7 linked regions of the Homo sapiens genome follow. The protein of the gene in region 2 interacts with the protein of the main gene of each other region in a pairwise test. Each region holds a gene or a part of one and is shown on either strand. Other genes may lie near its edges. The genes, in order: SMIM7, DRD2, ABCA2, SLC15A4, BCAP29, SERINC3 and GNB5.

Region 1 (4,186 bases), on a different chromosome or scaffold from region 2:
GGTTTCTGTTTTCTTTATTTTTTGTTTTGTTTGAGATGGAATCTTGCTCTGTCGCCTAAACTGGAGTGCAGTGGTGCGATCTGGGCTCACTGCAACCTCGGCCTCTTAGGTCTAAGCGATTCTCCTGCCTCAGCCTCCCGAGTAACTGGGACTACAGGTGCGTGCCACCACACACGGCTGATTTTTTGTATTTTTAGTAGAGACGGGGTTCCATCGTGTTATCCAGGATGGTCTTGATCTCCTGACCTTGTGATTCGTCCACCTTGGGCTCCCAAAGTGCTGGGATTACAGGAGTGAGCCACTGTGCACGGCCCTGTTTTTTTTGTTTGTTTGTTTTTGTTTTTGAGATCGAGTCTTGCTCTGTTGCCCAGGCTGGAGTGCAGTGGCGTGATCTCGGCTCACTGCAACCTCTGCCTCCCTGCTTCAAGCGATTCTCCTGCCTCAGCCTCCCGAGTAGCTGGGATTACAGGTGCCCACCACCACACCTGGCTAATTTTTGTATTTTTACAAGAGACAGGGTTTCATCATGTTGGTCAGGCTGGTCTTGAACTCCTGACCTCATGTGATCCACCTGCCTCGGCCTCCCAAAGTGCTGAGATTACAGATGTGAGCTACCACACCCGGCCCTGCTTTCTGTTTTCAAAATAAGTAAGTGAGGGAACCAGTATCTGAAGGGGTTAAACTCTGTCCCTGTGTCCCCACCAAACCGGGCTGGAACTTTTATTGGAACATGGAGTTCTCCAGCCCCCGGCTATGCCCGGCACCTCTGCAGGGGCTGCCAGGAGATGCCGTCCCTGAGCCCATGGCCCTGTCACGTCTCACCAGTTCTTCTGCATCTGCCGAGGTGGAAAATATGGTTTAAATGTCCAGCACACTGCCAGATCCTGCTCCACCTGGGCTGGAAGCCAGTAGAAATGTATTCAGACTTTATTGTTTTAAATTCTGGCTTTTCATTTTCTCATTAGGCTGAGAAAACTCAAGCAGATTGCCTTTCCATCTAGCACTGGGGCCATAACTCTGATACTACTGTTAACGAATTGTGAGATTTGCTGTAAATGGATTTAGGAAAAGACACGACGGGAGAATCTGGTGTTCTTGGCCTCTGTGGGTCCATCCCTGTATGCTTCCCCCAGAAAGAGAGAGGACAAAAAGTTGTCTGTCCTGAGTGATTGAGACTCCGAATGTGGGGTTGCTGTCCAGTCTGCGTGCCACCCCAGTGGCTGTTTGCGAAGATGCTTCCAGGACATAGGAGATCTGGGGAGGATGGCATTTCACCCTCATCACAAGGACCGTGATGTATTCCCAGGAAGACTGTTGCCAAGGTATCCTACCTGGCAGAGAGGATCTGAGAGCATGTATGAGACTTGCCTAGGAACAAAGAAGGCTTGTGAGGAGATCAAGGAACTTACATGAAATTGTAGGAACGGCCAGGGGCAGTGGCTCAGGCCTGTAATCCCAGTACTTTGGGAGGCCAAGGTGGGAGAATTGCTTGAGCCCAGGAGTTCAAGACCAGCCTGGGCAGCATGGTGAAACCCTGTCTTTACCAAAAATAAAAAAATTAGCCGAGTGTAGTGGCGCCTGCCTATAGTTCCAGCTCCTCGGGAGGCTGAGGTGGGAGAATCACTTGAGCCCTGGAGGCAGAGGTTGCAGTGAGCTGAGATCCTGCCACTGCACTCCAGCCTGGGCAACAGAAGAAGACCCTGTCTCCAAACAAATAATAATAAATCAAGACCTAAAGGACAAGAAGACGTTTGCCATTTGCAGAGCTGGAGAAAAGCATGGTGGCACAGGAAGTGGCATGTGCAAAGGTCCTGGGGCAGGGAAGAAGTCAGCATTCTTCCCTCATTCTCGTCTTTGCAAAGGTCCTGGGACAGGGAAGAAATCAGCATGCTTCCCTCATTCTCGTCTTTGCAAAGGTCCTGGGGAAGGGAAGAAGTCAGCATGCTTCCCTCATTCTCGTCTTTGCAAAGGTCCTGGGGCAGGGAAGAAGTCACTATGCTTCTATGCTTCTCTCATTCTCGTCTTTGCAAAGGTCCTGGGGCAGGGAAGAAGTCAGCATGCTTCTCATTCTCATCTTTGCAAAGGTCCTGGGGCAGGGAAGAAGTCAGCATGCTTCTCATTCTCATCTTTGCAAAGGTCCTGGGGCAGGGAAGAAGTCAGCATGCTTCTCTCATTCTCGTCTTTGCAAAGGTCCTGGGGCAGGGAAGAAGTCAGCATGGTTCTCATTCTCATCTTTGCAAAGGTCCTGGGGCAGGGAAGAAGTCAGTGTGCTTCTCTCATTCTCGTCTTTCCTGTGCACCTGCTTCATCATCCTCTCCTGTTTGACCAGCATCTTCACTCCCTCATCTGCTAGTCTGTGACCAGAACAGCAGCCTCGGGCATCCTCCCAGCTCAACTTTCCAAGACCTGCATAGTCAGTAGCCCAGGGTCCTGATTTTGTTTCCTGGGGCAGAGTCTGATTGACCCACCTTGGTGTCACTCTGGTCCATTTGGGGTGGGGGTTCTTGATTCTGCCATAACCACTTAGGTCAAGGGTCATCAGACCACAGGCCAAATCTCCCCACTGCCTGTTTTTGTGAATGAACTTCGCAAAAGTTCATGTGTGTGGCTGCTTCTGTGTCACAGCGGTGGAGTTGAGTTGTGTGACAGAGATGACATGGCTTGCAGAGCCAGAACTGTTAGTAAACAGTCACCCATTACAGAGAAAATGTGCCAACCTCTGACCCAGGCCAACTCTTTCACTGGGGGCCATGGGTGAGAGAAGATTCTCTCAAGAAAGGGCCCTCTCAGGGAGGTAGTGACTGGCTTTCCCAGGATATTTAAAAACTGGAAATCACCTAAGTGTCCAAGAACAGGGGAAGGATCAGGTAACTTGAAGGATGCCCATGTGACTGGCTGTCACAATACCATCACTGATGATGTGCCAGAAGGTTCTGTCTGCATGGGGAAATGAAACGTTCTGAAAGTGAAGAAGGCCGGAGGGTACTATGTCTGTGCAGCCTAACTTCAGCTGTGTAATGTGCATGCAGTAACCATGGATAAACCTTAAATGAGTGCCTTAAGTATGGGAGTGAAACACTGTTTAGCCAGGGAGTTGGAAGGATCCACTCCAGATGGGGTAGAGAGGTGACCCTGTGGCAGTTGCTGAGGAAATTGGCAGAGCCTGGGCATGGTTCAATATTCCGTGTGCCTATTTCTTCTTTTTTTTTTTTTTTTTGAGGTGGAGTCTTGCTCTGTCACCCAGACTGGAGTGCAGTGGCACAGTCTCAGCTCACTGCATCCTGCATCTCCCAGGTTCAAGTGATTCTCCTGCCTCAGCCTCCCAAGGAGCTGAGACTACAGGCACGCACCACCACACTTGGCTAATTTTTCTATTTTTGGTAGAGATGAGATTTCATCCTGTTGACCAGGCTGGTCTCGAACTCCTGACCTCAAATGATTCACCTGCCTCGGCCTCCCAAAGTGCTGGGATTATAGGCGTGAGCCACCGTGCCCAATCTCCCTGTGCCCACTCTTGTGTTGTTTGAGCTTTGGAAAGTTTAAGAAGTTATGAAAAGTCTGAAATAGGGGAGAAACGTCCCTGAGTATTTAGGGATCAGTAGCACTGTCATCTATAACTTACATTGAAACACATCAAAAATACGGATAAATGGTTAGATAGATGGATAGGTATGTGGTACAGCAAAGTGTTAATTGCAGAATGTAGGTGGTGGCAGTGTGTTTCAACACAACTCTTCTGTGTGTTGAAATTTTCATAAAATAACAAGAGGAAAAGTTAGGGAGAAAATGAACCATGGAGAGGTTTTACAAGTAAAAGGCGGAAGTCTGTCTTCACAATCCGGTATTTTATAGAATATTCACAGGATTATGCAGCCGCTATCTCTATCCAATTTCAGAACATTTTCATCAACACAGAAAGAAACCGCGTCCCCATTGGCAGTCACGCCCCATTTCCCCTCCCTTAGTCCCTGGCAACCACTCGTCGGCTTCCTGTCTCTGTGGATTTGCCTCATGTGGACAGTTTATATAAATGGAGTCATACACTGCATGGCCTTTTGTGTCTAGCTCCTCTCACTCAGCATCATGTTTTTGAGGTTCATCCACGTTGTAGCCTGGAGCAGTGCTTCATTCCTTTTCATGGCAGAATCATTCTCTTGTATGACTATTCCCCAGTTTTCCATCTGTC
Region 2 (4,186 bases):
TACAAAGCACATGACTTCCAGGTACTTTGCTACTGCAAATTGAAAACCACCAATTGATGCCATTTGGGATGAATGTGGTGCCATGTCCAATCAATGAACAGGGCACACCTCCAGCAATGGGTCAGAGAGGATGGTGGAAGAGGGTCTGCCCAATCTCCACACTCTCATCCCTGTCTGACACACCCACTCTTCCAGCTTTAGTAGAAGAATATGGATCATGTCCTACCAACCACCATCACTCTGGAGCCTCGGGGAAAAGCAAAGTGCCTAATTCCATGTGGGGTGACATGGAATGCCACCACGCAGCAAATCTTCCTGTTCTAAGGTAATGAAGCATATGTCATATTGATGCTGTATTCTGCAAAACCAACTGAGCCCTCTTCCCATTTGGAGCCCACAGCGGGAGGCCTGCATGTATGTATTGATCAGGTGCCTGGGGCTGCTTCTGACATTCATTTACTCAATCGGCATTTATTGAACCTGCTGGGCATAAAGCACTGTGCAAAGCAGTGTCAGGGGCCTGAGGCGTGTGAGGCACACTTACTGCCCCCATCCTGACCATCGCTCTCTTCTTCTCCCCCCACTCCCTGCTGCTGATGATAGCATCATATACTTGTAAAGGGTTTGATAGTTTGCTAAGTTTTTTGGATATACTGTCTCATTTATCCTCAAAACAACCCTCGGAGGCTTTTAATTATTATCCCTGTCTATGGCCATACTACCTGGAACATGCTTGATCTTGTCTAATTATTATCCCTACTTTAATAAGAAAGGGATTTGGAAAACTCTTCTGTTCACTTCCCTTCCCTCTGCTTTTCCAGTCCCTATGCATCCTTCAAAGTGAGTCTTGCCTAGAATCCTCCTGTCTTAGAATCCACCCATATCCTCCTGCCTGAGCCATCACCCACCCTCCTCAGGGTCCTGCAGCACTGAAACACACCCCAGTGCTGCAGGAGACACCTGTTTAGGAGTCTCTTTTTTTCACTGGGGTGTAGACATCACAAGAGTTACAACATGTCTTGCTCATTCCTCCTCTTGTTCTTGGAATGAACAAATAAAAACCATACTATCTTGTTCTTTCCCAACTCTTGACTCTGGTTTGTGGGCAGTACGTATTCAACAGATGTTTGCTGAACTGAATCAAAGGCTCTGTTAGTGCAACTGGGAAGAAAACCCCTTCCCACTTGAAAGGCACCTGCTAACATAGGCTACCAGATTAACAAGTGATGAAAAAGTAAGGCACCCCAAGGGTGCCATAGGTGCTGCATGTTGGGTCCTGTTACAGTCTGCACTATGCTCTTCCCCCAACCCACAAAATGTATATGTTGAAGTCCTAACCCCCAGTACCTCAGAATGTGACTGTATTAGGATACAGGGCCTTTAAAGAGTTGATTATGTTAAAATGAGACGCTTAGGGTGGGCCCTAACCCAATCTGACTGGAGTCCTTATAAGAGGAGCTTTGGACATAAAAAGAGACATCAGGGATGCGCGCACAGAGGAGAGACCAAGTGGGAATGCAGCAAGAAGGCGGCCATCTGCTAGCCATGGAGAGAGGCCTTAAGCAAAATCAGCCCTGTTGACACCTTGATCTGGGACGTCCCAGCCTCCAGAACTATGAGGAAACAGATTTCTGTTGTTCAATCCACCCAATCTGTGGAATTTTGTCATAGCAGCCAGAGCAGACTAATACAGGTCCCTAGAAGTAGACTCTGAAGAGGAAATCAGCCTGCAGGAAATGTACAGGGGAATGCTCTCAGGATCAAGATGTGCAAAGAAGTGAGGAAGCAGGACAGGCCAGAGGGAGAAGTCACAAGAAAGGCATCAGGTGACCCCACAGGGCACCCTGCCAGTTGCCTAAATGAGGGCAACAGGGTAGGGCCTTTAATCCCCTCTCATAGATGTCACAGCTTCTGGCTGTCCCAGGGAAAGCAGCGAGGCCTTGAAAGAGGCATCTCTCCTCAGCAGTGGGCAATTGCCAAAAACTGTCAGTTGCCAACACTCCCAGTAGATGGGGATGAGGGCTGTGGTCCTGCAGGGGGATCTGGGTGGCACTCCACCGTGTCCACTACAGTTGATGTTCAGGAGCATATGCACATGTGTGTGGCTGGGGCGTTTGTGGAGAACTTCCTGGAGGAGGGAGGATGTAAACTGGGATTTAATTTTTTTTTAATAGAGACAGAATCCCACTTTGCCACCCAGGCTGGAGTGCAGTGGCACAATCATAGCTCACTGCAGCCTCAACTCCTGGCCTCAAGTGATCCTACCACCTCAGCCTCCTGAGTAGCTGGAAATACAGGCATGTGCCACCATGCCTGGCTAATTTTTAAAAATGTTTTGTAGAGATGGGGGTCTCACTATGTTGCCCAGGCTGGTCTCACACTCCTGGCCTCAAGAGATACTCCTGCCTTGGCCTCCCAAAGTGCTGGGATTACAGGCACTAGTCTAGGATTTAAAATTATGAGTACAATGTAGATGGCAAATGTGAGCACTGCAGGTCAGGTGGGGTTGAGGGTGAGCATTCATTCTCTGGAGTGCTGGTTACTTCTGCAGGGTAAGGGAGAGTCCCTGTACCCAAGTTCTGAGAAAGGCCTCACACATTTGATTTTCTAATCTATTATTTATTATTGGTTGTTCTCGTTGCTTTTTGTTGCTAATACAAACGTAGTATATTTACACCATAGGAAAAAAAAGGGAAAACATGGCAAATGCCTAAATACCTGTAACCCCTATAAGTACCTTGGTACAGGGCTATCTTTTTGTCTGTTTGCTTGTTTGGGGGTTTTTTTGTTATTGAGATGGAGTCTTGCTCTGTCACCCGGGCTGGAGTGCAGTGGGGCTATCTCGGCTCACTGCAAGCTCCGCCTCCTGGATTCACGCCATTCTCCTGCCTCAGCCTCCCGAGTAGCCAGGACTACAGGTGCCCGCCACCATGTCCAGCTAATTTTTTTGTATTTTTAGTAGAGACGGGGTTTCACCGTGTTAGTCAGGATGGTCTCGATCTCCTGACCTCATTATCTGCCTGCCTCGGCCTCCCAGAGTGCTGGGATTACAGGCGTGAGCCACCGCACCCGGCCAGTACAGGGCTATCTTTTAACACCTGGTGTCAGTCCTGGTTTCTATCGTGTCTTCAGCACCTTATCTACTTGGGGCTTTCACCTCTCACAAGCAGGGGCAGCCTAGCTGGCTCTCACCATGTAAACATCAAGCTGAGCAGGAATTCAGACATCAGCAAATCCACTGCCACAGAGAAGGTACTCTAGCCTGAGAGGTGCTAGTATAACATTCGAGTTGAGGACTAAAAAACCTGGGTTCAAGTCCCAACTCTACCATTTACTAACTTTGGGGCCTCAGCCAGATTATTTGGCTTTCCTGAGCCCAGTTTTCCCATACACAAAATAGAGATAACAACAATTGTGAGTATTAAGTAAGATGACTCATGGCCATGTGCCAGGCACAGGTAAGCCCTTGAGAATGTCAACTTTAAAAATCAAACCAAGCAAAAGAATGAAATGAAACAAGCAATCAGACCACAAGCCAACGGCTCAGCAAGATGAAGTGACTGTTGCTGTTCAAATGCAGCTCACTAGGGTCTGAGGTCCTCCTGGGCCCACTGCCTCCTATGGCCCATCCTGAAAAATAGGTGGCTAGATGAAGGGAGATGGATTTCAAGATGCAGCCACCAACTCCTTGGGAGGAAGTAAAGGAAGGAAAAGACAAAGCCTGTCCCTGGGCCCTGGCTGTAGGACAAACTCAAGTGACCCTTGAGATGAGGTAGCAGCTGGCCTGGAAGATACAGCTCTCCCAGCCCAGCTGCTATAGCCGATGACTGTCATACTAATCACCACATTTCATAGACTCTAAGACAAAATCGAATGAAGATGCACCACTATTTTATATATCACTAGGAAAGAAAAAAATGCCATCCAACCCCAGTAGAGCTCCAAGATGTCATCCATTGTAAAATGCATTCTGATTTCAGAGACATTAAAATGGTGGGGGCAGGGGGAAGTGCATTGTAGAGTGGATAGCAATACAGGGCCTTCCCAGCATTTCTAAGCTGGTATTTTCTCAAGGGGCCTGAGAAAACCTGCTGGTCCCCAGGCTTCCCTGCTGCAGCTCCAGCCCATCCCTCCCTTTTGTCCTTCTGTCTCCGGGCTGCACAGATTGTTGGGCTCCAAGGGGCAT
Region 3 (4,186 bases), on a different chromosome or scaffold from region 2:
GTGTAGCAGGGGTAGGGGAACATCTGCACGTAGCTGCCTGGCTCCACCACATCGTGCCCCACAAAAGTGTCGATGATGGCGCGCTCCATCATGTCTGTGGGTGGGGGCAGCCATCAGGTGCCGGGCAGGCCCTCTCGTCCTCACACCTGTCCTCCCCCATGAATCCTCCAGCCGGTCTTCCGGGCCTGCTCCTCACCCTGGATCCAGACGAAGCCGTAGAGGAAGTAGAAGCGGCCGCCAGTATTGGGCCCAGGCCGCCAGTAGGCGCGGCGGATCTCGTTGGTTTTCTCGGTGAAGCTGGAGTTCTGGCGGATCTTGTAGTGCACGTGAGGCGGGAGCGAGCCGTCCTTCCGGGTCTGGAAGATCACACCTGGGGCCGGGAGGTTGGGGCGGGGCCAAGATGCAGGGGCGGGACCAAGGCGTGGTGGGGGGGAAAGCAAGGCACGGGGGCGGGGCCAAGGTGTGGGGGCGGGGACAGGAGGGTCCAGGGAAAGGTGGGACAGGGCTGGGGTGGGGGCCCCAGGGGAAAGGTGGGCAGAAGTGGGGAGGTGCAGGGAGGGGGCGGGTTGTGGGTTGGGGCCGTTTGGAAGGGGCAGGGGTGGGGAGGGGAAGTGGCGGGTGAGGGGGGAAGGCCAGGGCGCGGCCAAGGAGTGGGAGGGCACAGGGGGACGGGTGGGGCTGGGCTGGGGAGGAAGAGGTCTGTGGGGGGCTGGGGCGGGGCGGGGAGGGCAGCTCACTGGCAAAAACAGTGACGTTGTCCTGGTAGGCCTGGTTGAGGGTGTAGTTGACAATGCTCTCCTCGTCGGGGAAGCCCTTGAAGATGTCCACGCTCACCTAGCGGGAGGGGCATCGCTGGAGCCCGCCGTGGGCATGTGCGAGGCAGGGGGTGTCGTGGGTTGGCTCGGAGGCCCCACCGCTCACCTTGGACATGAACTGGATCCAGCCGCAGGCCGCGTTGTCAATGGTATCCAGCTGCTGCAGGAGGGCCATGCCACTGGGCAGCGAGAAGTTGTCCTGTCTCAGGGCCGGCGGCAGCTCATCCAGTGACAGGTTCAGTGCCTCGGGGTGCAGCCGCAGCTCTGCTACATACTTGGGGTGGAGGGGCGGCTCAGAGGGGGACCTGCGCCTGCCGAGCCGGGCAGAGAGGGGCTCCCCACACCACCCACAGCCGCCTCCCTCGCGGGCACCCTTGGCACCTGCTGCAGCCAGCGCAGGTGTTGCTGCAGCCTGCCCTGCTCCAGGAAGCTGCGGATCTCCGCCGAGATGTTGAGCCAGACCTGGGCATAGTGAGTCACGTTGCCCACAAAAGCAAAAGTCTCGTTGGCCTGCAGGGGGTGAGGCAGGGGCATGGAGTTTCTGGACGGACCCCCACCGACTTGGGGGCTCTCACCCCACTCACCTCCCCAGTGGCTGGTCCATTGCCAACAACTAACCCTCCCCACCTTTTTTTTTTTTTTTTTCCTGAGACAGGGTCTCAGTCACCCACGCTGGAGTGCAGTGGTGCAGTCCCAGCTCACTGCAGCCTCCACCTCCCAGGCTCAAGGGATCCTCCCGCCTCAGCCCTCCAAGTAGCTGGGATTACAGGTGCCCACCACCACGCCTGGCTAATTTTGTATTTTTGGTAGAGACGGGCTTCCGCTATGTTGCTCGGGCTTGTCTCAAACTCCTGAGCTCAAGCGATCCTCCCACCATGGCTTCCCAAAGTGCTGGGATTTCAAGCGTGAGTCCCACGCCCGGGCTCTCCACTCCTTTCTGCGGCGCTCAGGTGAAACCTGCTTTGCCCTCCACTCCCAGGGCAGCACGGCCTCCGGACCCCCAACTGCCCAGCTGTGCCCACCAGCTCCTTTGCTGGACCTGTCTCCATGTGTCCCTTAAGCACCCAATGCTCCACCCTCATCTGTCCCACCCTCATCCTAGGGACCCCCTCTACACCCAGGATTGGCCTCGTCCACAGGCCCTCCCCTCCCAGGCCAATGTCCAGCCCTGGCCTCTGCTTGTTCCAGACAGGACCCCTCACCCAGAACCCAAACTGCCCAGCTGCCCGCCCACGAGACACTCTGGAAGGTCTCTGGACACACCCCTCCTCCACCAGCACTGCCCTGGACCGGCCACCCCCAGCCGGAGGACCCTGCCAGAGCAGACTCTCCAGTGCCTTCCCACAGCAGCCCCTGGAGCTCCCGAAAGGAAAAGCGACCCCCTGGTCCCCCACCTGCAGAGCCTGTGTCCCATCCGAAGCTGCACCCCGTACCCCTCCCGTGTCAATTCTGCCGACACCCTCTGCCCAGGGGTCCCAGGCCTGCAGAGACCCCCTCCCACTCTGCCTGTCAAACATGGAGCGTCCCAGACCCGTGCACCTTGAGGATGACGCGGTCGACCTCAGAGCCCGCAGGCGCGTACAGGATTTTGGGGTTGCTGGTCATGAGGTGCACGAGGAGGCCCAGGTTCCGCTGCTCCTTGCTCGTGAAGCCCAGGGAGCTCATGTTGCCCCGCCGCAGCGCCTCGGGTTCAATGGTGCTGGGGTAGGGGACAGGGGGCCGGGCCAGGCCGTTAGGGGGCAGGGCCGCGAGAGTGGGAGGGGCATCGGGATGGGGCAGGACTTCGGGGCACAGGGCAGGGCGCCAAATGAGACCTCCAGAGCCAGAGCCTAGATTCAGGGCTCACGCCCTGCCCCTGGCTGTCCTCCTCACCCCCATTCCCCTGCCGCCCACCTACCGGTTGTTGCCACACAAGATGGGCTGCAGGCCGGCCCAGAGCTGTACGAAGGCTGAGCACTGGCCCTGCAGCGTGTCCGGGGTGGCCAGTGCTGCAGCAGAGGGTGCGCCCTCCTCAGCGGTGGCGTTGGGGCCCATGACTGCCCCTGCCCCAGTGCCATTGGCCGCCCCACCCGCACCACTGGCTGGGGGTCCGGGGGTCCGGCCAGTGCAGGCACCCTGGGGCAGTAGCAGGGCCAGGGCCGACAGGACATCCACATCCTGCAGAACCTTCTGGGCATCCAGCAGGTCCCCCAGAAGCGCCTGCAGCCTCCGTGGGGGTGGCGCCTGTGGCGAGGAGTCCGAGCCGTTGGGGGCATCCAGGCCCAGCTGAGGGGAAACAGGCACGTGGGCAGTGCGGGGTGAGATGGACTGCAGGTGGGTGATAGGTCAGGAGTGGAGCAGGGAGACAGCAGCAGGGAGACACAAGCTAGGGGTGCTGGGAGGGAGTCTGCAGCCTGGGTAACGGGAGCCCAGGACAGGAGCTGGGATGGTGAGCAGGAGTGGGGCACCAGCCATGGTGCCATTGGATACCCACCCACAGGCAGCATCCCACGCACAGCCTGGGCCCAGGAGCCCTGAGCTCTCCAAGCGGTCCCAGCCCCTCCTTCAACTCAGGCAGCAAGCAGCGCAGCGGGCAGTGGGCAGGCAGGGCCTCACCTGCTGGGAGACCTTGGCCACGTCCAGCTGGTTCCGGAGCTCAGCAGACAGCCCAGAGAAGCGCCTGGCACGCGCAGCAGCCTGCCCACTGCAGACAGCATCCCGGTAGCCCTGCAGGGCTCCCTTCTGACTCTCAGGCACAGTGAGGATCCGGCCCAGCTCCCCCGAGCCCGGCGTGCAGGTGAGCTGCTCCAGGAGGGCAGGAGCCAGCAGCAGCTCCTGGGATGGGCACAGGGGTCCGTGGAGCCACGGCAAGGACTTTGTCCCCAACCACTAGGGCCTCAGGCCTCACCCTGCCCCACCCACTGGCTGGCTCTGGGGCTGCCTGGGTCCCACGACATGCCTCTACCCCTCATGCCTGCCATAGACCCCTGGGACCCTCCCCCTCTCCCAGGAGGAGCTCCAAGTCACCAAAGGGGCCCTTTCCTCACCCACGGAGCAGAAGCACCCCCAGAGGCAGGCAGCACTCCAGGCCCATCCCACACATGGATGCCCTCACCTCCATCCGGAACAGGGGATTGCCCCCTAGGCGGCTCCAGGGCTCCTGACCCTTGTGGAGGCCAGACTGTGAATCCAGGGCAGATGAGGGACCAAAGAGCAGGTGGTAGACCTAGGAGGTGTGGGGGAATGGCTCAGATGGGGTGTGGGGGGCGTGGCTCAGATGGTGGGGGCGTGGCTCCGATGGACGTGTGGGGGCGTGGCTTAGATGGTGGGGGCGTGGCTCAGAGAGTGGGGGCGTGGCTCAGATGGTGGGGGCGTGGCTCCGATGTAGGTGT
Region 4 (4,186 bases), on a different chromosome or scaffold from region 2:
TCATGTAGACTGGTGAGATCTGCCAGAACTCCACACAGGGACAGCCGGAGAAATCAGAGATGTTCAGGAGCAAAGTAGGCGCACAGGGCTATTTTGGTGAAGTTTCAATCTACCACGTGGAAGGAATATTAGACACATTCGCTACGGCTCCAAGAGCATGAGTAAGACAAACACAGACAGGCCGCAGGCAGGCAGATGTGTGAGTGGGCCCGCAGAAGAATGTCCAGCAACCAGTGCCATGCCACAATGGGGTGCACGGCTCAGAGACACAGGACGCTCTGATGGCTGAGTGATCAGCCTCCCACCCAGCAGCCTCCAGGCATTTCTACGTTGATCAAAACATTCCATGAGGGGACTGACTACAAAAGGTCCCAGAGACTTCTCTGGAAGGATGGAAATAATCTATGCCTTGACTGCACTGGTGGTTACACAACCTGAGTAAGTTTGTCATAATTCACAAAACTGTACAGATATAAGGGGTAAATTTTACTATCTGTAAATTATTCCTCAATAAAGAGTAACACAAACACTTCTGAGCTCTCTTCTTGGGCTTAAGTTCTGGACTTTATTAACTGGCATCCAACATCACCAAACATGAGTCATAGTTGGCCAGTGACTTGGAGGGGTTCTGAGGACACAGGCCTTTCTGTTTTAACACCTCAGTTCATGGGACTTTGGTGCTAACACTGGGTAAGTCCCATGAGATCATCTGGTTACCCTCAGTGCATCTCGCCATTCTGCTACTGCACCTTCCTGTCAAGAGTTACAGACCTGACCGCCGTATGATGGACCTGACCGCCGTATGATGGACCTGACCGCCGTATGATGGACCTGACCGCTGTATGATGGACCTGACCGCCGTATGATGGACCTGACCGCTGTATGATGGAGCCCATGCTGACCTTTAGGTAAGAGGCAGTGGCTTACTTTTTAAAGAGCAGAGACAGGTACTGACAGCATAAGCAACTGCTTAGTTTTTCATTCAAATGTATTTCAAAGCTTTTTAAAATAAAAAGAAACATGTATAAAGCATGTCTTCTGTCTCCTCGATGTCCTCCACAAATTTCTACCTTTATAATCTGGCACCAAAGGAGCTTCCGTCTACACTAGCAGTGAGAGAAAGTGCAACGTGGGGTTAAAGCATGAGCTCTGGAATCAGGCCACTGGCCTGTCTTTAAGATGGGATAATAAGACCGCACCCGCCTCCTTGGGGAAATGCAGTGTTAAAGGAGAGAAGACATGTAAACCACTCAGCCCAGGCCCAGCACACAATAAGCACACAACAAACCGAAGCTAGGATGTTAATAAAGAGATCGATAAAGTCCTTTCAAACAGCCCAAGATGAGAACTAAGTGCTTACCCATTACTCTGGCGCTCTCCACTTCGCTTCTGGGAACAGCAGGAATACGTCAGTATCTTGAACATGTCGGTGAAGGCACTGCCATCAGGAGGCTTGGTGATGAAAACGCTCTGGCCACAGAGGAAGACCACAAAAGCAAGGCCGACGCAGACAGTGGGGATCGCATAACCAGTGACAAAGCTGACGTTCTGCTGAATATAGGCAATGCCACCTAACGACAGGATCGCTCCCAGGTTAATGCTCCAATAAAACCAATTAAAAAATCTCCTAGTGGCTTCCGGACCTCGATCTTTAACCTAAAATAACAGGGAGGAAAGACACTTGAAAATATATGACAGTCTTCAAGGATGAAAACCATATACGGTCAAGTGGTTAAAATTACCGTTGTCATCACAACCTTTAAGAAGCGCAACACAATCAAAATTGTGTTTACAGAAACATTCACGGATCTCAACAAAAAGCACACCCCACGCTTTTAATTACTACAGTTGCTAGGTAGGTTTCACTTAATTACACTAAATTCCAACAAATGCTAGAGAGTTTTTCCAAGTATATTCTGCTGTAGAATTTTCTAAGTACCTGAACCACTTGCCTTGGAATTACCTGGAATGCTCTTTAAAAACAGAGTCCGCTGGGCATGGTGGCTCACGCCTATAATCCTAGCACTTTGGGAGGCTGAGGCGTGTGGATCACTTGAGGTATGGAGTTCGAGACCAGCCTGGCCAACATGGTGAAACACCGTCTCTACTAAAAATACAAAAATTAGCCAGGCATGGTGGTGGGCACCTGTAATCCCAGCTACTTGGGAGGCTGAGGCAGGAGAATCGCTTGAATCCAGGACATGGAGGTTGCAGTGAACCGAGACTGTGCCACTGTACCTGGTTGACAAGAGTGAAACTCCATCTCAAACAAACAAACAAACAAAAAACAAACACAGTCACAGGACCCACGCTCCAGACCTACTGAATCACGGTCTCTGGGGCCCAGGCCCAGGAATCTGCATTTCAAGCAACTTCCCAGGTGACTTCTACTCACAGGTAAGTTTTAGAACCAATGTTATAAAGCTCCATGCCTTACTGAGCTACATGCAAGTACCATGAGGCACCCCACAAATATGCTTAGGCCCCAAAGAGAGACATTTGTTCAGTGAGGCCAAGTCACCACCCACACCAATTGTATCTGGTCTCCTGAGAATCAGAGATCTCAGTAAACTTGAAGCAAAGAGGAAATTATAGACTAAAGATAAAACCACATGCTATTTTTAGATTAGACAGGCTATCAATGGAATCGGAGAAATTCTGATAAGGGTGGGATTTCCAAAAGGCTCAAAAATCACTGACTTCCTGGACTCAAACAAAAGCACTGAGGTAATAACGCAACATCTAGGCTTATGGAGTTCACGAGGCTACTTCAATGGAGCCCAAGCGGTGGGAACAGGTCATTTGGGGGCAGACACACCAGAAGCCTTCTCTGCCCACCTGGATTTTTACGTCTAAATAAGATACTGTGCAAATGAACCCTGTACTAGACAGAGACATTTCTAGTGAGTTTCATTTCATAAATTTATTTTTAACAAACTTATGAGAGGCTGATACTGGATCTCATAAAAAGACTCTCTTGCTGTCTTAAAAACTTCTACTGTCTCATTCTTAAGTCACAGGTTATGAAAGAGTTAGAAAATTCTTATTCTAATAATAGATCTAGTTTCTGGATCCATAGAACAATCTGCTCTACTGAATAACACATTCTCAATGGGGCCAAAACAACCAATTACGGTTGGGCATGGTGGCTCAGGTCTGGAATCCCAGCACTTTGGGAAGCCAGGGCAGGCAGACCGCTTGGGTCTAGGAGTTTGAGAGCAGCCTGGGAACACAGACAGACCCCCATCTCTACAAAAAATTACAAACATCAGCCAGGTGCGGTGGTGTGCGCCTACAGTCCCAGCTACCTGCGAGACTGAGGTGGGAGGATCCCTTGAACTGGGGAGGAGGTGGCAGTGAGCTGTGATGGCACCACTGCACTCCTGCCTAAGCGACAGAGGCCCTGTCTCAAAAGAAAAAAAAAGATATGGTATGTAATAAGCACATGCATCTTTTTAGCAGTCATATATTTGATATGGTATTTTAAACTCTATTTTTTAAAGATTAAATCAGAGGAGTAAAATTTATAGTTAAAATTGTGTGTTCCTCTCTAAAGGAAATAGAGCAAAAGAAAAAAAATTGTGTGCTCCTCAAAAAGAGATTTGTTTGAAGTCCAAATGATTAAGCATGGCCACTATGGTGGCAGGTAATTAATTATATATAGTAACACCACTTCAAACGAAAAATCTAAATTTAAAAGAAAATCACTTATTCTCAAGAGTTTAAACTTTTCTCTTATCTATTACAATACTGAACAGAGGTCCTAGACCAAATGCAGACATCTCTACTGAATAAAGAGTTTGAGGTGAGAACTTCACAGACATCTAAGACACTTCTTCACTAGGACACAATGCATTTAAATATTGCTCAACAGTGGACACCAATTCTCATGCTATACTAGACATGGACCAGGAAGAAAAATGAAAAATGTGAGCAGAGAAATGGTTACTGAGAAAACAAAACTAGAAGTGCGAAAAAATAACAAACAAAAAGTAATTTTTTGACAAGCATAAAAGAGGCCAGTAAACATAGTATATAAACTTAATAGAGGCACAAATGATTTCCTAACTGAAATGTACTCGGACCTTCCCATTACCCACAGTGACACTGCACACACCTTCCCACGGTCTCACTCGGGCCTTCCCGTTACCCACAGTGACACTGCACATATCTTCCCACAGTCTCA
Region 5 (4,186 bases), on a different chromosome or scaffold from region 2:
AAATTGTTCTATCAGATAACATAGGAGTTGAGGGCACAAAATAATGTGGTTATGAATGTGGATTCTAGAGTCAGGCTGCTTAGGTTCAAATTTTAGTTCTGTCACATATTAGTTGAATGATCTTGTACAAGTCACTTAACCTTTCTATGCCTCCATTTCCTCATCTATAAAATGCAGATAATAACAATACCAAACTCAAGGGACTTTTGTGAAAATTAACAGTTAAAAACCTTGTTGTGAAGCATATGAAGCAATACCTGGCACAATGTTAACTATTATTTATAGCTAAGGAACTTTGAGGCCCATTAACATAGGTGATTTGTGCTAGGTCACATGTTGGAACTAGCACCTAAGTCTCTCGGATCTCAGGGTAATGCAGTTTCCACTGGATAATGTGTCTCTGATAGAGAATGAAGAGGTATGGCTGGGCGCGGTAACTCTTGCCTATAATCCCAGCACTTCTGGAGGCCAAGGTGGGAAGACTGCTTGAGGCCAAAAGTTTGAGATCAGTCTGGGGAGGAAGGGAGGGAAGGAGAGGAAAGGAAAGAAAGGAAGGAAGGACAAAACAAAGGGGGTGTTTTCACAAGCTTATCTTTCCTTAGCTTATTTTTCAAAACCTACATGAAGTACCTTGAAACAGACGTCATCTTTTATATTCTCACTTATGGCCTTTGTTGGTCACTTTATTGGTCAATTAGTTATACTCTGGGCACTGACAGCTGCTTTTATGTGCTGCTCAAAGACTTTCTCCCCACTGTGTACTGGCTTTAGCCCAGCATATCTGTGCCTCCTCTGATTGGGTCACAGCTATGCAGGAAGCAGCAAATCAGGACAGTATGGAAACAAAGGAGAGGAAAACAAACAAACAGAAAGAATAAATCACGCAGGGTCAAGGAATTGGTAATCATGACATAAGTTTCCTTGCATGGGTAAATGGTTCTGAAAACAATTCCAAGAGAAAAGTTGCAAAAGTATTTTGAGGAAGGTGCTTTTTTTAAAAGGGCAAGACTAATTTAAGTGTATTAAGTATGGTATGTATGAAAAAAATAACACTTTCCATTTTCTTAGAGCTAAAGAATAAGAGAAAAACAATTGAAGAGGAAAAAAAGCAGTGTTCTGATGGTTACAAATCATTACTCCAAAATGATGTGTATAATTTTAAATTAAGATATGTACATGATCAGTTGTTCTATAAATACAAGGCTGCGTGCTTTTGAGTTTAGTTAACACTATCAATCAAAGCTTTAATGACTGTGTTTTTATTTTTGCCACTGTGAAATGAGATCAAAAGATAGAAAATAAAGGAATAACATTAAAGATTTCAAATATTATGTGCAATTATCAATCTAGCATCAATGACGTTTCTCTGCTTTCTATAAACCAATCATTTAAAAGAAAACGAAAATCTAGGCTTAAAAATACTTTAACTGAAAAAGAAATAGAAACAGTTATAAAGACTTGCTTTAGATTATAAAGTAAACTTAACGGTAATGAAGGAATTAAAATTCATATTCCCAGAATACTATTTTCTCCTTAAATCACAGAAAATAGGTCCAATGGTATAAATCCACTATGGAGAAAAAGCAAATCTAAATAATAGTAAAAATATTAGTGTGAACAAGCATTTCTAAAGAACAGTAAAACTATTCTTGAAATAATCATTACATAAAATATTGTTAATTATGGTCATTTTCTGCTTATAAAATATAAAAATGCTCTTTTTGATGCTGAAAACAAATACATTACTCCTCGGGAACACCAACAACATTTAATTTTTACAAAGAAAATTAAATACCCTTTTTAGTTTTTCGTTTTCTTCCATAAATTTTTTGGCAGCCTTGTTAGTATTTTCTGCTTGAGTTTTAAGTACACCTTTGTTTGACAGTTCTTTTGCCAGTTGAGTAATAAGCGTAACCAGACGTCTCAAAACTCTAAGAAAAAAAACCAGAATAATGTATTACTGGCCAATCACCAGAAACTTATTTTAAAACAGTCATTGCCAAATTACTCCCCATTAGATATAGGTGTGGTGGTGGCAGATAATGTTTAGGCAGAACCCATTATTCTTTTTTTAATTCAAGTCTCTTAGTAAAAACAGGCCCGTGTCTCATTCCTTTGGAATCTTTGTTAGAAGACCAGCATTTAGAATACAGGTTCAGTGGTACTTATTTGTTTTCCTGTAGAAGGCTTTAGCTTGGAGGAATAGAAACAGGAAAATTTCAGACAGTGTGACAGGGCCAGTAGGAGAATTATTTTTTTTGGCCCAGTTCAAATTCTGCTATTTAAGGAACATTGTGTAAGGTCAAACAAGCCGAAGAACAGCTCATTCACATCCGTTTATGTGTAACTGCCATTGTTAGAAGAAATAGTGATGACTATCTTCAATTATTCATTCAGCAGACATTCCTTTACTCAGGAACTGCTAAGTGTTAAGACACTCTGCCAGGCACTGCAGACACAGCGGAAAACAGCAAAGTCCATGCCCTCAGGGGTTTAGCTCCTAGTTGTGGAAGCAAAAGTTAAAACAGTATTTAATTACAACCATGAATGACACTAGAAAATGAAGTATATATACATTCTTTGAGCACCTGTAAGAGAAGACCTACCTACTTTGTGGGTAGTGATGGCCACAGAAGGCTTTGAGAAAGAGGCTAATGGATGAGTAAGAGTTAGCCAGGAAATGAGGAAAGAAAAGAGTGTTCTGGCAAAAGGAAGAGCTTGTGTAAAGACCCTAAAATGGGAAAGAGTTAGGTACACCACAGAACTCAATCAATATCTGTTGCAAGATGGAATGAATGAATAAATGGTGAAGGTCTGTAAGGGTGGAATGTATTGTACATCTCAGAGACACGTATGAGACAAGGCTCCAAAGAGAGGCAGGAGCCTAATCATTCAGGGCCTTATGGACTGGGCAAACCTACAAGCTGTTAACTACTGTTTGTTATTTGGGTATATCATCTGAATTCTTTTACAAAGATGTTATAAAAAAATCTACAGGCCGGGCGCGTTGGCTCACATCTGTAATCCCAGCACTTTGGGAGGCCGAGGCGGGAGGATCATGAGGTCAGGAGATCGAGACCATCCTGGCTAACCCAGTGAAACCCTGTCTCTACTGAAAATACAAAAAAATTAGCAGGGCACAGTGGCAGGCGCCTGTACTCCCAGCTACTCAGGAGGCTGAGGCAGGAGAATGGTGTGAACCCAGGAGGTGGAGCTTGCAGTGAGCCGAGATCGCGCCACTGCACTCCAGTCTGGGCGACAAAGCGAGACTCCATCTTAAAAAACAAACAAACAAACAAACAAACAAAACTACAGTAGGCTGGGTACAGTGACTGTAATCTCCGTACTTTGGGAGGCTGAGGTGGGAGGATCACTTGAGGCCAGGAGTTTGAGACCAGTCTGGGCAACACAGTGAGACCCCATCTCTACAAAAAATTTAAAAATTAGCCCTACATGGTGGTGTGCCGCCTGTAGTCCTAGAAATGAGAGGTTGAAGAGGCAGGATCACTTGAACCCAGGAGTTTGAAGTTACAGTGAGCTATGAAGGCACCACTGCACTGCAGCCTGGGCAACAGAGCGAAAGGTTGTCTCTCTTAAAAAAAAAAAAAATCTACAGTAAAGGTGGACAAAATGAGAAAGGAAAGCATAAGTCATGTTTTTAAATTGTGCTTCTATTATTATTTTTTACTTACAGCCAAAAAAATAGGGAAAATCCAGAAATGTAAAGATTTCTTTGAGACCTAAAAAGTTTCATCTGTGTGTGTTCATAGGCATCAGGTCTGCTGGTGGAGCTCTTCTCAATGGTATGAACTGAGGAATATTTCCTTACTTCTCTCACAGCATCTATTACAGAACAAAAGAAAACAGTACTTTTGGCTTTTACGAATATAAGCTTGTTAAAAATGGAAAGCAGTTTTAGAAAAACTGACCAAACTTTTAAATAATGGACTTTAGGCAGAGGCGACCTTTATGTCATTCCGTCTACAGTACCCGGGAACTTTTCATGCTCAAAGTAGGTGCTCTATAAATGGACACTAGTAGCAAATTTTGAATTACTATAGCATTTTTAAAATTATTCATCTAGTACTTACCATCATTTTATTGTTTCTCATCTCTAACTACACTGCAAACTATTATCCTTTACATTTTCTGTCTCTAAGATGACTAAAATTCAGCCTATTGACAA
Region 6 (4,186 bases), on a different chromosome or scaffold from region 2:
ACTGCACTCCAGCCTGGGCAACAGAGTGAGACTGTCTCAAAAAAAAAAAAATAAAAAAGCGTATAGTGGCATTTAGTACATTCACAATGTTTTGCTGCCATCACATCTGTCTAGTTCGTCGCCCTAAAGGGAAATCCTTTACCCATTAAACCATCACTCCCATTTCCCTTCCCTTCAACCCCTAATCTTCTGTCTCTAGATTCACTTATTCTGGATATTTTATTATATAAATGCACTAATACAGTATGTGACCTTTCATGTCTGGCTTTTTAAATAACTTTGCATGATGTTTTCAGGGTTCACCTGTGTTCTATCATGTATCTATCTATTATGTCTGAATAAGCCATTGTATAGATAGACCAAGTCTCACTCTGTTGCCCAGGCTGGAGTGCAGTGGCATGATTTCAGCTCAATGCAACCTCCACCTCCTGGGTTCAAGCAATTCTCCTGCCTCAGCCTCCTGAGTAGTTGGGGCCACAGGCATGAGCCACCACGCCCGGATAATTTTTGTATTTTTAGTAGAGATGGGATTTCATCATGTTGGCCAGGCTGGTCTTGAACTCCTGACCTCAGGTGACCTGCCCACCTCAGCCTCCCAAAGTGCTGGGATTACAGGTGTGAGCTGCCGCACCCAGCCAGATATACCATATTTTTACTTAGGCCATATTTACTTATCAATTAATGGACAGTGGGTTGTTTCCACATTTTGGTGATTGTAAATAGTGGTGCTGTGAATATTCGTGTACAAGCTTTTGTTTTAATAGCAGTTTCAAACAAAACAGCTATTGGGGTCGGGTATATACTTTCTGGGTCATATGGTCATTCTGTATTTAACTTTCTGAGGAACCTGGTTCCTCTTGAATTGAGCTAAATGGCCCTTGCTGTTATTATTTGTCAGAGGGTTTCCATGTAGTGTTGCTTTATTTTTTTATTTTATTTTATTTTTTTGAGATGGAGTCTCGCTCTGTAGCCCAGGCTGGAGTGCAGTGGCGCAATCTCAGCTCAGTGTGAGCTCCGCCTCCTGGGTTCATGCCATTCTCCTGCCTCAGCCTCCTGAGTAGCTGGGACTACAGGCGTCCGCCACCACACCCGGCTAATTTTTTCTGTATTTTTAGTAGAGACAGGGTTTCACCGTGTTAGCCAGGATGGTCTCGATCTCCTGACCTTGTGATCCACCCGCCTCGGCCTCCCAAAGTGCTGGGATTACAGGCGTGAGCCACCACGCCCGGCATGTTGCTTTATGTTGTAATATCAGCTTTGGTAACTTGGATTCGCAGTAAGCAGCAAGTGGAGTTAGGTTTATATTTTTCTCATATTTTAAAACAAATGATGCTCTCAGAATATAATTAACATTTATTGAACTGTTAATGCATTTTAGGTAGTGTTGAGTGCTCATTTAATACAGCAGAGTCTGAGGGAGGAAAATTCCATTATTGAGCTCATTTTACAAATGGTCAAATGGGGTTAGAGTACGTAACTTGCTGGGGTAAAAAGCGGCAGAAATAATATTTACTCCAGAGCCCGTACTTTTAACCACTTCCTCCCAGCCATGATTCTCTGAGTTAAAACTATAAAGCCTGATTTGCCTCGCTTTCTCTTCTGCGACATCTGTGTCATAAAGGAGTATACTGAAGGCGGTCTCAGGTGACCATGGTGTGCTCATTCCAGGTTCCATGCCTCTGCAGCGGTGCCTCATGTTTGCTGTGTAGTTGCTGTCCTAACAGTAAGAATTCCACGGTGACTCGCCTCATTTATGCTTTCATTCTCCTCCTGAGCACTGTCGTATCCTATATCATGCAGAGAAAAGAGATGGAAACTTACTTGAAGAAGGTAAGAAGTAACAGTGCCCTTAAGGTATTGGTTATTTTTATTTTTATATTCTGCAAAATTCTAGTTTTATTTCGTCGTTGTTAATCAAGTTGGTTGTAATTTGGAGATTTTTTACTTATATGGGGGTGTGGTCAAAACACAGAAATATGAGGACATTAGTCCTTTTCCAGAAATACAGAATGAACATCTGGGCTCCAGTCGAACAACTGAGAGAAAACATTAAAAGGGTGGCTCCAAAACATTTTCTTTCCTTATGTGTTAAAGGTCGAAGCATCTAAACTGGACTAGTTCTTCACCTTTGGAAGGACTCAGTCGTAGCTGGAAAATCTCACAGGAAAGTGGCACACAGCCTCTTCATCCTAAAAGGGCAAAGAAGAGAGACCATATTTTTTTGAAACTAAGACTCACTCTGTTGCCCAGGCTGGAGTGCAGTGACATGATCTTGGCTCACTGCAACCTCCGCCTCCCTGGTTCAAGCAATTCTCCTGCCTCAGCCTCCCGAGTAGCTGGGATTATAAGCATGCACCACCATGCCCGGGTAATTTTTTGTATTTTTAGTAGAGATAGGGTTTTCACCATGCTGGCCAGGGTGGTCTCGAACTCCTGACCTCGTGATCCACCCACCTCGGTCCCCCAAAATACTGGGATTACAGATGTGAGCCACCGTGCCCAGCCGAGAGAGCATTTTTATTTTTAAAATGCATGTTATTTATACTGTTTGGTAACAAGATTGTAAATGAATTGGAAGACAAAGAGAAAAATTCCATAGTCAGTCTTGCAGTTGTTGAAGTAGTTAATTTTCTAAATCCAGGCTTTCCTGCAGTGGGTTAGAGTCTCTGTCTAAATGTAGATATTCTCGTAACATTGAAATTGCTTTTTTCCAGATTCCTGGATTTTGTGAAGGGGGATTTAAAATCCATGAGGCTGATATAAATGCAGATAAAGATTGTGATGTGCTGGTTGGTTATAAAGCTGTGTATCGGATCAGCTTTGCCATGGCCATCTTTTTCTTTGTCTTTTCTCTGCTCATGTTCAAAGTAAAAACAAGTAAAGATCTCCGAGCGGCAGTACACAATGGGTATGTTAGATTTATGATTAACTGGTTACATTATGGTGTGGCTCTTCCTTCCCTTCAGCAGTTAATATAGCCATTCTGATGAAATCAATGGAATATGTAAATGAGTGGCTCAGATGCATTTCTGATCTATTATGCATGTGAAATTGTTTTAATGTCATTTTCAGTTAGATTGCTGTAACATGGAGGGGATAGGGGGTCTTGTCTTTTTATTTTCTTCTATTAAATTCCTTTGCTTCATGTTCTTAGATTTTTATTGAACACCTGTTAAATAGTTGAAGCACTATGCTAGATACTACGTACACACACACTTTTTTCTTTCTGTTGTTTAAAGATAAACATGTACCTGATAAATTTAAACAGTGTACAAAAGTCAGTGAATATATATGTGCTACTGATTTACATATTCTATTGCTTCTGACTCCTGACCACCTTTTACCTATGTTTCTAATTCTCTCCTTTTTTTTTTTTTTTTTTTGTTTTGTTTTTGGAGATGGAGTTTCACTCTTGTCACCCAGGCTGGAGTGTAATGGCGTGATCTCGGCTCACTGCAACCTCCCCCTCCCGGGTTCAAGTGATTCTCCTGCCTCAGCCTCCCTAGTAGCTGGCATTATAGGCACCTGCCACCATGCCTGGCTAATTTTTGTATTTTTAGTAGAGATGGGGTTTCACCGTGTTGGCCAGGCTGGTCTAGAACTCGTGACCTCAGGTGGTCCGCCCGCCTTTGCCTCCTGAAGTGCTGGGCTTACAGGCGTGAGCCACTGTGCCCAGCCGTATTTCTAATTCTCAAAGACTGAATGGCGTTTTATAAACTTGATGTGTATTATAATCCCCTTTTTACAGATGTAGTAACTGAACTGCAGAGAGGTTAATAAATTGTCTGAGACCTGTTAACCAGTTGGAGGTTGGAGCTAAGATTGAAACTTAGATCTGTCCAGCTCCAAAGCCTGGTTCTTTCCACTCTGCCATACAAGGCAGTCATTAAAGATCATGAACTGAAAATCAGGTGCCAGTGATGAGCTGTGTCATTGTGGGCAAGGTATCTGTGCCCTGTGTTGTAAATATTTGTGATTACTTTTCATCCAGACCTTAACAGTTAATGGCTGTGTGTGTACCTAACACTGTTATTTTAGAACTCCCAGAATGCTAGAAAAATGCCTACCTTTAAGTGCTAAAAGTAGGGAGACTCTAAATTTTCAGTTTTCTCTGGTAATAAATGTGAGTGATTTATCTTCTAGGCTAATGTTGTCCTTTAATTGTGTGAAATATTAAATGAATTAG
Region 7 (4,186 bases), on a different chromosome or scaffold from region 2:
CACCAAGCCCAGGCATACTGAAAAGTGTGTGTTATATAAGCTGATTCTATGGCATCTCATCTGTCACAGGACCCTCGCTTGACTGTTTTAAGACAGATAACTGAATTTTTTTTAAGTGGCACTTACAATTTCTGCACATGTTGAACAGTAGCTGAGTTGTTGAGACTTCTTGAAAACTGGTCTCAGAGCTCGTTGTTTGAAACATTTGTCACATGAGCCAAATACATTAACGAGAAAGGTCTGATCACACATCTTTTACCCAAGATAAAGCTGAAAAAAAGTGAAAAGAAGGGAGGGGGTGTGAGAAAAGCCAATGGTTTTAACTTTCTAAAATCTCTTCTTGCTTGTACCGTGGTAGCTATTCAGACGTCTACATGTGGGATAGAGTATATGCAGTTAATTTATAACCTTTCAACTATTACAACATGCTGGGTCAATACAACTCATTTAATCAGTGAGAAAGCATCAGACAATAGGTTTTCTGAACTTAACACGTTTAACCAGTTTTTTGGCAGCTGGCAGACCTGCGTCAGGCAGGATTGATCCTTGCAGCACAATATCAATTCTGTGGGGTTTCACAATGGAAAACGTTTTTGTAATGGATGCTATAACTTAAAACTTTTAAAAACATTCCTCCCCTCAGGGTGAACTTTTAAAGATAAGGGTCAGCAAATGATGGAGCCTGACCCCAACCAAAGCCAGGGGCCTGAGTAAGTGTGGTGTGGGTTCCGTGCAAGGCAAGCACTCACTTATTAAACATTTGACAGCCAAAGACCCAGGGTCCCTGCCTGTTCACAAGGAAGTCAACAGACAGGCCCAGGCCGCTGCAGGGAGGCAGCACAAGCATCTAGTGGTTACAGGGACAGGCTCTGGCTGCCTGGTCCCGGCCCACCACTGAGGCTAGTTAGCTGACCTCTCTGAAGCTTGGTTTTGCTAATCTGTCAAGTGGAGATCTTAAAATCTACCCTTCTGGGGTTGTCAAGAGAATGATAAGAGTCAGTGCGTAAAGCACTTAGCTCAAGGTCGGTAATACAGGGAGTGTGCCAGCGAGGTCATGCTGCCCTGAGTGGCAGCAATAGCGGGAACAGTGGCTGCCTTGGGAAGGAGGGACATGGGTAGGGGCAGGGTGAGGCTGGGGATGCCAAAGAAAGCATAAGAGGAGCCTATGGCAACGGTTCAGACAAGACGCGAGGAAGTCATGGACTAAAGGTGAGAAAGTAACTTTTATCTGAGGAATGCAAGCCCTTTTAAATTATCAGGCCCAGAGAATCATGAAAATGAGACAGCAATAACGTTCTAGTCCCCACTTTGAGCTGTGTATTCATCTTTTTATTATTATTATTATTATTATTATTATTATTATTATTATTATTTGGGACAGTATCTCTCTGTCTCCCAGGCTGGAGTGCAGTGGCACAATCTTGGCTCACTGCAACCTCGTTCTCCTGGGTTTAAGCGATTTTCCTGCCTCAGCCTCCCAAGTAGTTGGGATTACAGGCATAAGACACCATGCCAGGCTAATTTTTGTATTTTTAGTAGAGGCAGGGTTTCACCATGTTGGCCAGGCTGGTCTCAAACTCCTGACCTCAAGTTATCCACCCACCTCGGCCTCCCGAAGTGCTGGGATTACAGACATGAGCCACCACACCTGGCCTCATCTCTTGAAACTGCTTGCCATTGGCACAAGTAGCTAAAAAATAACCTAATAATGCCACACTGGACACTATAACCCACACCCTGTAGTGTAACAATGTATAACCAGTCGCTAATCAATGTTATTTCTGTAAACTAATGAGAATTCCTAACAACTTTGTATCAGCCCACTCCCGGTCCCTCTTTTTTGCCTTTTTAAAAAAACTGCTTGTAACAAAGGCCAAACAGAGATAATGTCCAAGGTTACTTGGGTCTGGGCCTTCCAGGAATCTGTCCTCACTTTGGCTCAAGTAAACTCCTTAAGTCTTGGTTTGTGCTACAGCCTCTTCCTTTTAGGCCCACAAAGCAATGTAGTGGGATGGACTTGGACCATGCTTAGGAAAGAGAGAAGGAGCTGGATTTGGCATGTGGAGTTGAGGAGAGGGAGATGTGGGTGCTGTGGCCTAGATTTCTTTGGGAGACCGAGGGGTTATGTTGCCATTGCTGGAGATGAGGACAAAGCGGTTAAGGGGGAAGGGAGCAGCCAGTGTGGCCCTGTCAATTTGGTAGGTGTTCTAGAGTGAGCCCCGTCAAGATTCAAAGAAATGAACCCCTGAACATAAAGATAATTGGGGGCGCTGGTCTGAACATTTCAACAGAGTCAAATCTGAGAGGGATGCATTTATGGGGGAGGTGACAGTTGGGGACATTTCTGATGAGGAACGTCTGCCATGTGGAGCCCACCCTGGGGCTGGAGAGATAATGGGGGCTCATGAGTTGGGCTGAGCTCTTACAGCAAAGGGGCAGTCAGCACAGTTCGAGACCTCTGGGCAACAAAGGTGTACAGGGCATCCCTTAGGGACAACAGCTCGCAAGGAAACCAGCTACCAACTGCCACAGAGTGCCCAGCCCTCGCCTCTCCCTGGGAGGGAGGCAGGACATCTGTGTTACAGCTGAGGAAAAGCAGGGGGATTAAACAAGTTCAAGGTCAGCGGCAGAGCTGAGTCTGTAAGTAGCATGAATACACACTTTGGAACCCTATTTCCAAGCTAGCATGGTCAAGCTGCATGGTTTTGTCACAAAAGGTGAGTTAACAAAAAAGGGCCTGCCCTCCAGAGCCTGGCCCATGGTGGGGCTTGGTAACTGTTGCATCCCACTCCCCAGCCCTGTAAAGGCAGCCAGTAACAAGGTTGGGCTGAACACTCCCAGTAATAGCATTAGGACGGTGAGCCACAGGCTGTTAAGCAAGGGAGCAGTGTCATCCACGTGGATTATTCCAGCATTTGTGCTTCCAGAAGTAGGTCAGAGAGAGAGAGAGAAGGGACGGCAGGAAAACAAACTAGGTTAAGAGATTGCTATGTTCTGGAGAAGAGGAAATGAGCTGCGGACAGAGGAGCAGCTATGGGAATGGAAGGCGAGAGGAACCTATGGCACCAAGTGGAGGAGGAATAGAAGGATGGCTGGGAGGCACGGGAGAGAAAGACAAGTTGAAAAGATAGCCGATATTCCATATCTAGATAGAGGCAATGTTTTTCTTCTCAAACTAAATTTTGAATTTTTTCAAATTATAAAAGATGCTGATAATGTTCATTATAAATAACTGGAAACAGGGCCAGGTGTGGTGGCTCATGCCTGTAATCCCAGCACTTTGGGAGGCCAAGGCGGGTGGATCACTTGAGGCCAGGAATTTGAGACCAGCCTGGCCAACATAAGGAAACCTCATCTCTACTAAAAATACAAAAATTAGCCTGGCGTTGTGGTGCGCACCTGTAATCCCAGCTACTCGGGAGGCTGAGGCAGGAGAATTACTTGAAGCCGGGAAGCAGATGTTGCAGTAAGCTGAGATCATGCCACTGCACTCCAGCCTGGGTGACAGAGTGAGACTCCATCTCAAAGAAAATTAAAAATTAAAAATAAATAAATAAATAAGTGGAAACAGAAGGACACAAAAAGGGGAAAGTAAATCGCCCACATGCCCTACACCAACAACTGACCTGTTGGCATTTTATGTTTTCCTCTAGTATCTTTATAAGTATATATGTGTGTACTTTTTAACAAATTGGAATTATATGCCATATACTACTTTATATAATAGCATTTTCATCTTCACGTCATTGCATATTACTGGAAAACACCATTTTTTAACGGAGACTCCAATTTTTGAGTCCTATGGGCCTTAAGTCGTATCACATAGCTAGCATTTTAGACCTCACTGGTTAAACATGGGCAAGCTACAAACTAAATTTAAAGCATTTTTAAACTGTAAATATTATACATATGCATTGTAGAAAGTTTGGGGGAAAAAAAGATATAAGGAAGAAGATAATCACCTATAATCCCACCACTCAGAGAAACTTCTTTTTACATTTTGGTGTAGCAAGAATAGATTTGAGACCACTGAGGTCATACTGTTCATGTATACTGATTACATTTCTGTATCTTGATGTTTTTCACTTAGTATTTGTATCAGCTAAATTTTAGTACTTTGTTGTACTTATTGTCAATATCCTTTTTATGATGAGAGAATTTTTCACAGCTAGAGCCAATGTTTCGA

The links.
Region 1: the proteins of DRD2 (region 2) and SMIM7 interact in a two-hybrid assay, tested with the Homo sapiens proteins (one large-scale study listed by BioGRID and IntAct).
Region 3: the proteins of DRD2 (region 2) and ABCA2 interact in a two-hybrid assay, tested with the Homo sapiens proteins (one large-scale study listed by BioGRID and IntAct).
Region 4: the proteins of DRD2 (region 2) and SLC15A4 interact in a two-hybrid assay, tested with the Homo sapiens proteins (one large-scale study listed by BioGRID and IntAct).
Region 5: the proteins of DRD2 (region 2) and BCAP29 interact in a two-hybrid assay, tested with the Homo sapiens proteins (one large-scale study listed by BioGRID and IntAct).
Region 6: the proteins of DRD2 (region 2) and SERINC3 interact in a two-hybrid assay, tested with the Homo sapiens proteins (one large-scale study listed by BioGRID and IntAct).
Region 7: the proteins of DRD2 (region 2) and GNB5 interact in a protein complementation assay, tested with the Homo sapiens proteins (one study listed by BioGRID).

The regions. Positions count from the first base shown.
Region 1 is NC_000019.10:16,649,741-16,653,926, reverse strand, and holds part of SMIM7 (small integral membrane protein 7 isoform 2 precursor), read left to right. Parts: intron 1-965; coding exon of another isoform or gene 966-1,065; exon of another isoform or gene 1,066-1,571; intron 1,572-1,654; exon of another isoform or gene 1,655-2,032; intron 2,033-2,084; exon of another isoform or gene 2,085-4,048; intron 4,049-4,186.
Region 2 is NC_000011.10:113,426,470-113,430,655, forward strand, and holds part of DRD2 (D(2) dopamine receptor), read right to left. Parts: intron 1-4,186. UniProt on the Homo sapiens protein: Dopamine receptor whose activity is mediated by G proteins which inhibit adenylyl cyclase. Positively regulates postnatal regression of retinal hyaloid vessels via suppression of VEGFR2/KDR activity, downstream of OPN5.
Region 3 is NC_000009.12:137,017,982-137,022,167, forward strand, and holds part of ABCA2 (ATP-binding cassette sub-family A member 2), read right to left. Parts: intron 4,021-4,186; coding exon 3,910-4,020; intron 3,630-3,909; coding exon 3,411-3,629; intron 3,081-3,410; coding exon 2,713-3,080; intron 2,515-2,712; coding exon 2,355-2,514; intron 1,326-2,354; coding exon 1,197-1,325; intron 1,090-1,196; coding exon 922-1,089; intron 835-921; coding exon 738-834; intron 371-737; coding exon 197-370; intron 95-196; coding exon 1-94. UniProt on the Homo sapiens protein: Probable lipid transporter that modulates cholesterol sequestration in the late endosome/lysosome by regulating the intracellular sphingolipid metabolism, in turn participates in cholesterol homeostasis.
Region 4 is NC_000012.12:128,813,415-128,817,600, forward strand, and holds part of SLC15A4 (solute carrier family 15 member 4), read right to left. Parts: exon of another isoform or gene 1,964-4,186; intron 1,657-1,963; coding exon 1,361-1,656; intron 1-1,360. UniProt on the Homo sapiens protein: Proton-coupled amino-acid transporter that mediates the transmembrane transport of L-histidine and some di- and tripeptides from inside the lysosome to the cytosol, and plays a key role in innate immune response.
Region 5 is NC_000007.14:107,593,612-107,597,797, reverse strand, and holds part of BCAP29 (B-cell receptor-associated protein 29), read right to left. Parts: intron 3,844-4,186; coding exon 3,693-3,843; intron 2,501-3,692; exon of another isoform or gene 1,932-2,500; coding exon 1,796-1,931; intron 1-1,795. Other genes in the region: DUS4L-BCAP29 protein, read right to left, coding at 1,796-1,931, 3,693-3,843. UniProt on the Homo sapiens protein: May play a role in anterograde transport of membrane proteins from the endoplasmic reticulum to the Golgi. May be involved in CASP8-mediated apoptosis.
Region 6 is NC_000020.11:44,511,523-44,515,708, reverse strand, and holds part of SERINC3 (serine incorporator 3), read left to right. Parts: intron 1-1,668; coding exon 1,669-1,830; intron 1,831-2,714; coding exon 2,715-2,908; intron 2,909-4,186.
Region 7 is NC_000015.10:52,184,425-52,188,610, forward strand, and holds part of GNB5 (guanine nucleotide-binding protein subunit beta-5), read right to left. Parts: intron 271-4,186; 5' UTR 253-270; coding exon 127-252; intron 1-126. UniProt on the Homo sapiens protein: Enhances GTPase-activating protein (GAP) activity of regulator of G protein signaling (RGS) proteins, such as RGS7 and RGS9, hence involved in the termination of the signaling initiated by the G protein coupled receptors (GPCRs) by accelerating the GTP hydrolysis on the G-alpha subunits, thereby promoting their inactivation.